2 linked regions of the Homo sapiens genome follow. The protein of the gene in region 1 purifies or fractionates together with the protein of each later gene. This does not show direct contact. Each region holds a gene or a part of one and is shown in the gene's direction. Other genes may lie near its edges.

Evidence for each region. Proteins that work in one complex are often made in the same cells at the same time.
Region 2: the proteins of GLS (region 1) and SIRT5 purify together in Homo sapiens (affinity purification with western blotting; 3 studies listed by BioGRID and IntAct, with this or other methods). This does not show direct contact.

What each region holds. Positions count from the first base shown.
Region 1 is NC_000002.12:190,904,751-190,908,501, forward strand, and holds part of GLS (glutaminase kidney isoform, mitochondrial isoform 1 precursor), read left to right. Parts: intron 1-253; coding exon 254-417; intron 418-3,751. UniProt on the Homo sapiens protein: Catalyzes the first reaction in the primary pathway for the renal catabolism of glutamine. Plays a role in maintaining acid-base homeostasis. Regulates the levels of the neurotransmitter glutamate, the main excitatory neurotransmitter in the brain.
Region 2 is NC_000006.12:13,572,672-13,576,422, forward strand, and holds the start of SIRT5 (NAD-dependent protein deacylase sirtuin-5, mitochondrial), read left to right. Parts: upstream 1-1,929; 5' UTR 1,930-2,073; exon of another isoform or gene 2,074-2,700; intron 2,701-3,751. UniProt on the Homo sapiens protein: NAD-dependent lysine demalonylase, desuccinylase and deglutarylase that specifically removes malonyl, succinyl and glutaryl groups on target proteins.

The sequences.
Region 1 (3,751 bases):
TGCTATATCATTGTATATAAGGGACTTGAGTGTCCATGGAGTTTGGTATCACAGGGATTCCTGGAATCCACCTCCCACAGATATCAAAGGATGACTGTACTTAAATTTATTCTGTAATTTTGACATAAACTTGTGGTTGAATTATGGGAAAATTTTTGTTGGAATTGTTAACATGTAAAAAGAATAATTCCAACTATGCAGTTACATTTTTTTCCCAGTTGATGTTATTTTTTAAAAATCTCCTTTTAAATAGGCATTCTACTGGAGATACCAAAGTTCCCTTCTGTCTTCAGTCCTGTGTAAAACCTTTGAAATATGCCATTGCTGTTAATGATCTTGGAACTGAATATGTGCATCGATATGTTGGAAAAGAGCCGAGTGGACTAAGATTCAACAAACTATTTTTGAATGAAGATGGTAAGAATTACATAAACATTGGTTGAAAAAAGAAATGTCTCATTTTCCTATGTAAATCTAAGTCGTTTTAAACATTTTTTGATTAAAATTAAAAGTATTTGTCATGTGATTTCTATATAATCCATTGAGAGAGTTTCATCACCTACTTTTAAAAATGATTATTTTAGGCATCTCATACCACTGGGAAGTGGGCTAGGGAGAACATGAACTTCTCTCTTCATAACCACCTTTAGGGAAATATAGCGAAATCTCAAAATACATGAGATTTGCTTTAAAATAATTTAGTTAAGGCAGCTGGGAGTGCTGGGTATGATTATTACTATATGTTGGTAATTATTGCAGCTAAATGATAGGTGCATGGGTGTTTGTATATTATTCTATCTATTATATTGTATATAGTAGTTGAAAGTTTTATTGTGGCCCTGGTTGAGATAGTGAGGATTATTATTTTTCAGTGAGTGTTTTTACTTTTTATCCTTATAACATTAAAAAATTTGAAAGAAATGCTTTGTGTTTAATGCTTGGTTAACAAATCTTTTTACAGGAATTCAAAAGAAAAGGGGAGGACAAAAGTAGTTAGTTTGATCTGATAGAGATTTTAAGTCTAAACATCATTTAGCTGAGTGCAAACTAAGTTAAACTAGTCCCATGGTTTGGTTTCTGTTTTTTAATCTTCTAAGCATATGCTGTGTTTCTGATTGATGAGTTAAGATATAGAATTGAAGAAAGTGAGAGCGAAGTTTGTAGTAATGGCTGTGAGAGATACACTTTTGTACTTTTTTTTTCTGCTGTATAAAAAATGAAATGTGCCTTATACTCATTATTTTATTAGTTTGTAAGATGAAGTCATAAGACTGGTATTTTCTTATGCTTCTCATCCTATTTATTTTGAGAGCAGTTACATTTTCTTTCCCATTTTACCGTAACCTTTTTATTCTGATGCTACGTTTGGTTTTATGGACATTACTGTAAATTAACAACTTCAATAAGGACATCATATGCAGAAGCACTTTATTTACTAAGCTCATTGACATCTAGATTTAATATTGAAAGAATTAATACTGTTATTCTAAAAATACCAAATATTTTAAAAGAAAAATTTAATACTTTTCCATGAACAGCAAAGGAGAATAGACATGTCTAGTGAATTGATGGATTTCGAGGGAGATATTTAAGAAAAAACAAATATAGTAATTTGAATGTTTAGAGGATTTCAGAAACAAAAAAACAAAATGGGCTTGGAGCAAATGAAATTAACAGTATAAGTAATGAATTTTTTTGCCATATATATTTATGGTTTTAGGAATCATGAATTATTGATACTGTATTCTATATAAGAAAAAATGACAAATCAGAGATTTAGAATTGTTTATAATAAGAATAAAACATAAAGTTTAACAAGAGATTTTGCCTCGATATTCATAGACGTTTTCTAAGCCTGAGCCAACACCCTGAGTCTTGAAAGTAACAGTAAATACAGGCTTCACTATATTACACCTTCCTGAATTCTGATTAGAGCCTGTGCTCTTGAGTCCTGATTTAGTTTAGCCCAGCAAAAACAATTTGAAGATCTCGTTCATATTTAAAATTGCAAGGGTAGATTTTTGGTGAAACCATACACTTTTTGTGTGTGTATGTATATATGTGTGTATCTAAAATAATAAATTTTTAAAAAATAAATATATTACTGTTACACCAGCTTTATAAGATTGTGATGATTTATTAAGACTAATAGGGATATGGTAAATAGAGAAATTGTAGTAGTTTTTTTTTTTTTTTTGAGATGGTGTCTGGCTCTGTCCCCCAGGCTGGAGTGCAGTGGCATGATCTCGGCTTACTGCAAGCTCTGCCCCCCGGGTTCACGCCATTCCCCTGCCTCAGCGAGTAGCTGGGACTACAGGCACCCGCCAGCACGCCTGGCTAATTTTTTGTATTTTTAGTAGAGATGGGGTTTCACTGTGTTAGCCAGGATGGTCTCGATCTCCTGACCTCGTGATCTGCCCGCCTCGGCCTCCCAAAGTGCTGGGATTACAGGCTTGAGCCACTGCACCCGGCAGTAGTTTTTAATAACAGTAGTTTTTTTTTTTTTTTGAGACGGGGTTTCACTCTTGTTGCCCAGGCTGGAGTGCAGTGGCGCAATCTCGGCTCGGCGCAATCTCGGCTCACCGCAACCTCCGCCTCCCGGGTTCAAGCGATTCTCCTGCCTCAGCCTCCCGAGTAGCTGGGATTACAGGCATGTGCCACCACCCTGGCTAATTTTGTATTTTCAGTAGAGACGGGGTTTCTCCATGTTGGTCAGGCTGGTCGCGAACTCCCAACCTCAGGTGATCTGCCTGCCTCAGCCTCCCAAAGTGCTGGGATTACAGGCGTGAGCCACCACACCTGGCAATAACAGTAGTTTTAAAATGTTTGCAACATAGAAAGTTTTGGTAGGAGGTGGCTGATATTTTTTATCATTATAAGTGAGCAAACAAGTTACTTTATGGAGATGTCAGTTTTGCAAACTACCATCTCCCAGGGAAGTCTTTTTCTACCTTGTAGTGATCGGGTTAATCAACAAATTATTTATATAGCTTTCCTTGTCTGTATTGTTAACAGCTCTGGAGGGTACATGGGCCTTGCTTCTTGGAATAACTTTTCTGACTACAGGATACAGAAGGCAATTACATATTTCTAATACATAATGGGAGAAGACATACTTAAGCATTGAATACTGTTAGTTGTATTATCTTACAAGTATGTAATTGACAGGTGCCAAAATGTATGTGCTGATTATATGTGTGGAGGATTGAGAAAAAAGAGGAGTTGAGTTAATTTACATGAGGATGACAGGACTGAATTGATAGGATGAATTGTGGATGGTTGGGAAGAATGTGAGAGGGCACTGCACATTTTTTCCAACCATCCTCAATGGGCACTGCACATTCTTCGTAACCATATATATCCCAACCAGATGGAGAATATTTTCTCTATATCTAGAGAATATATTGTAAATGTGTGTAATGTCAGATAATTGAGTTTCCTTAACTCCAGTTTTTATTTGGCACTGTAAAATTCCAATATAATACCGAAAATATAAATATCCAAATTAAATTGGAAATCCTTTTTAATATTTTTCGTTCTTTAGTATATGTATTAGCAAACTTTGCCTCAGCCTCACCTGTGAACAAAACCCTTGTAAGGTTCATATGCTTAGCAGCTTGAAAAGCTTCTTTTGATATAATATGAAAGAATGCTGTGTATTTTATTGCCTTTGGGGAAAATAAATACTTGTTAAAATTGATCTTTTTTTGCATTATAGTTTAAAGCATGTTCATAAATTTCAGATGTCACC
Region 2 (3,751 bases), on another chromosome or scaffold:
GAGAATTGGTATGTGTAGCAGCTTGGAACCTTGTCTTTGAAGTCAAAGCACTTAGATTTAAATCCCAGCTCTACTGTTACTGGTAAATTGCGTTCTTTTCCTAGTCTGTATCAGTTGCAAAGAAAGCACACCAACTGGAAAAAACGGCAAGCGGGTTTCATTCCTGGCCAGGAATAGAGAAGGAGTAAACTTTCACTCTAAAGACCCCCTTCTTCCAGAGCTTTGGGAAGCTGGGGAATTGTAAGGCGTTAGATGTGGAGTGGGGAGGTATGCAAGCATATGCCGGGAGGAACTCTAGACGCACAGGTGCATTTCATAAACATGCCTCTTCATACAATGCACTATCAGAAAATGGCGGCGATTCTCTTCTACGGGTCGGGAGTTGAGCATATAATGATGTATTAATGATCTAAAAGTAACAAGGGGTGGCTGGTTCTGGTTTTCTCTGGTTCCTAGTAGGCCTTATCTTTCTCTGGTACTTGGCAAAGGGCAGTGAGGATCCCGGGCCAACCGCAGTTGTTTTAAGCTGGGTTACCTATAGATAAAGAGACTAGGAAAAAAAATCAAACAAACAAAACGGTTTAAAAAACAATGAGCATTTTCAGCTGTCTACTGTTTAAGAAAATAATGAGCTCTCAGTTTTGCCCTCTGAGCGATTTCTCCAGGACTGCCCTGGTAACACTACTACTCAACAGTTTTGTGCTTTGCGCAGTTACTTGACCTCCCTGGGCCTCGGTTTCCCCACCCATAAAGTGGGGATAACAGTACCTATTTCATCAGGTGGTGGGGACGATTTAAAATGGTTAATAATGTGCAGTTCTTAAAAGTGTCTGGCTCAGAATAAGCACCATACACGTTAGGGGGAAAAACAGCAGCCGGATGTGAGGCCCTCCCCAATTTCGTTACTCCATAAACCTCTGAGTTGCTGGTAACACCTGCAGGAATGAGAAGGGCCTCAACATGGGCTGAATTTCCAGCCAAACTGTGGGAAGTGGCTGAGATTTTAGGTAGGCAAAAAATGTTAATGTAACATTTTTGGCCCCCAAGTTCTCAGACCACTTACTTCCCTTTCTAGTCCACTGACATGCCCGCAAGCAATTCCATTCTGCCAAGTGGTGCTGGTGGCAAGCCGGAATCCAAGAAAAGGAAAGACTCCGATTTTAAGGGAACGGGGACATGCGGAGCCACGTGAGTCACTGGGTCCCAGAGCCACGGAAGGCTCTCAGCTCAGCAGTCAGAGTGCACTCGTCATTGCGTTCGAGGTTAGGTGGCCTAGCCTGGGAACCAACTCACCGTCATTTGAAATCGTTTTAGGGAAAATGACCCTAACATTTAAAATCCTCTCTCCTGAAGTTGTGTGGTCCAGCCGTTTGCTGAAGGAGGAAGCAAAGCCGGTAGTAACTCACTACATATTTGGGCAGTGGAATGAACCCTGGAAGCTGACAAAGTCGAAGCAAGTCACTGCGCCGCCCCCCACCCCCACCCCCACCCCAAATAAAAACAGAGAGACAATCCTTCAATTATAAAGAAGACCACGGCGCCCGGGTCTCCGGCAGGGGCCGCTGCAGCCGAGCAGAACGCTGAGCCGCTCCGCCCCACGGCCTCCTCTCCAGCCGGCGCGCCCGCCTCCCGCAGGTGCGTCTCTGCCTGCGCCGGGCCGGGGTCTCCGCGGCCTCTCCCGCTCGGGCTCCGGCTTCGAGGTCCCGACCAAGCACTGCTCTCGCGGGACTGCGCGCACCGCCCAGGGCCTGCCGCGGGCTCGCGAGCGGAGGTGGCACCGGTCCGCGGTGCGCATGCGCGGCCCGGCCTCTGCCCTGCGGTCCCGGGCTGGTGACTGGCTAGCGGTTGGAGGAAGGGATGTGGGGGATGGTGGGTGGGTACAGAGAGCTGGGAGGGAGGCACCCCGGGGGGCGGGGCGTGGGAGACTGTATTCGGGGGCGCGAGCTGCCCCAGGTGAGCCGTGGCTCAGGTCCGGAGCGCGGTCGGGACACAGCGCCTCTAGGAGAAAGCCTGGAAGGCGCTCCGGGGGTACCCAGAGCTCTTAGCGGGCCGGCAGCATGTGCGGGGCCCAAGGTCTTCCGGGCTCTGCGTGGGGGTCGCTGCGGCTGGAGACCAGGGAGGGGGATGGAAACGGGGTTGGAAAGTAATCCCACCCGAGCAGGTGGGCATGGGAGGCCGCTGTGCTGGGGAGCCCCGCGAGGGCTCCGAACAGAGCCTCCCTTTTCAGAAAGGTCACCCTGGTCATTGCAGCTGCCAGGGTGACCGAGGAAGGTGGCCGGGGTGGAGGCAGTGGGCGTGGAGAGGGGTCGGATTCCGGACGTAGTTTGAAGGTGGAGCCGTCAGGTTCTGCTGAGCAGCTTGGCTATGGGGCGTGCGAGAAGGGAAGGCTCAGGGCCTAGTCCCTGGGCACGAGTAGTAGCCGGGAGGATGAAGTCCCAGTGCTTCGGGGGGAGGCGGCTTGAGGACGGCTCTGGAGCTCAGGCTTGCCCGCGTGGAGTGGAAGCTGCCTCTTGGACACAGGGCGGGGAGGCCGCATGCAGTCTGGCGCGCTGGGAGGATGGGAGATCCAGAGGGGCAGGGCTGGAGGGGTAGGAGGAAAACCTGAAGAGGGTGGCGCCCGGAAGCCCGGGAAAGTGATGAACTGGGTCAGAGGCCGGGTATCAACAAATAGGAGGGTGGAGACGACCTTGAGGAAAGCAGGTGATGGAACGGGAGGGAATGGGGCCCCCTAGTGGAGACACCTGGGAGTGATGTATTGCATTTATTTAGCTCTTAGGCGTTCAAAAATTATTTATTGGGAGCCTGTACAACTTTTTGCAGTTCATTGCATTATCCTTAGCATGTATTTTGTTTTATATAAATATATATTTATATAATTATTTTTATTGACAAATTTATATATTTATAGCGTACAGTGTAATGTTTTGATATATGTATACATTGTAGAAAGATTAAATCAAGCTAATTGACATATCCATCACCTCACCTACTTATTTTTTGTGGTGAAAATCTACTCTCCTGGAAATATACAATACATCATCAACTATGGTCACCATGCTGTGCAGTAGATCACTAAAACTTACTCCTCTTACCTAACTAAAACTTTGTATCCTTTGACCAACATCCCTCCCTTCCACATCAGCCCTCTGCCAGGCCCCTGGTAACCATCATTCTACTCTGCTTCTATGAGTTCAACTTTTTTAGACCCCAAGTATATAAGTAAGATCATGTGCTGTTTGTCCTTCTGTGCCTGGCTTATTTTACTTGGCCTCATGTCCTCCAGGTTCATCCATGTTGTTGCAAATGACAGAATTGCCTTCTGTTTTAAGACTGTATAGTATTCCATTGTATATATGTGCCACATTTTCTTTATCCGGTCCTCAGTTGATGGATACTTAGTTGCTTCTATATCTTGGTTATTGTGAATAATGCTGAAAACAACACAGGAATGCAGCTATCTCTTCAACATACTGATTTCAATTCCTTTGTATATATACCCAGAAGTAGGATTTCTGGGTCATGTGGTAATTCTATTTTTAGATTTTGAGGAGCCTCCATACTGTTTTCCAAAATGGCTGTACTAATTTACATTCCACCAACAGTGTACCAGGGTTCCCTTTTCTCCACATTCTGGACAAAACTTGTTGTCTTTGATCTTTTTTATAATAGCCATTCTAACAAGCGTGAGGTGGTAGCTCAGTGTGATTTAATTTGCATTTCCCTGGTGGTTAGCAAAGTTGAGCGTTTTTCA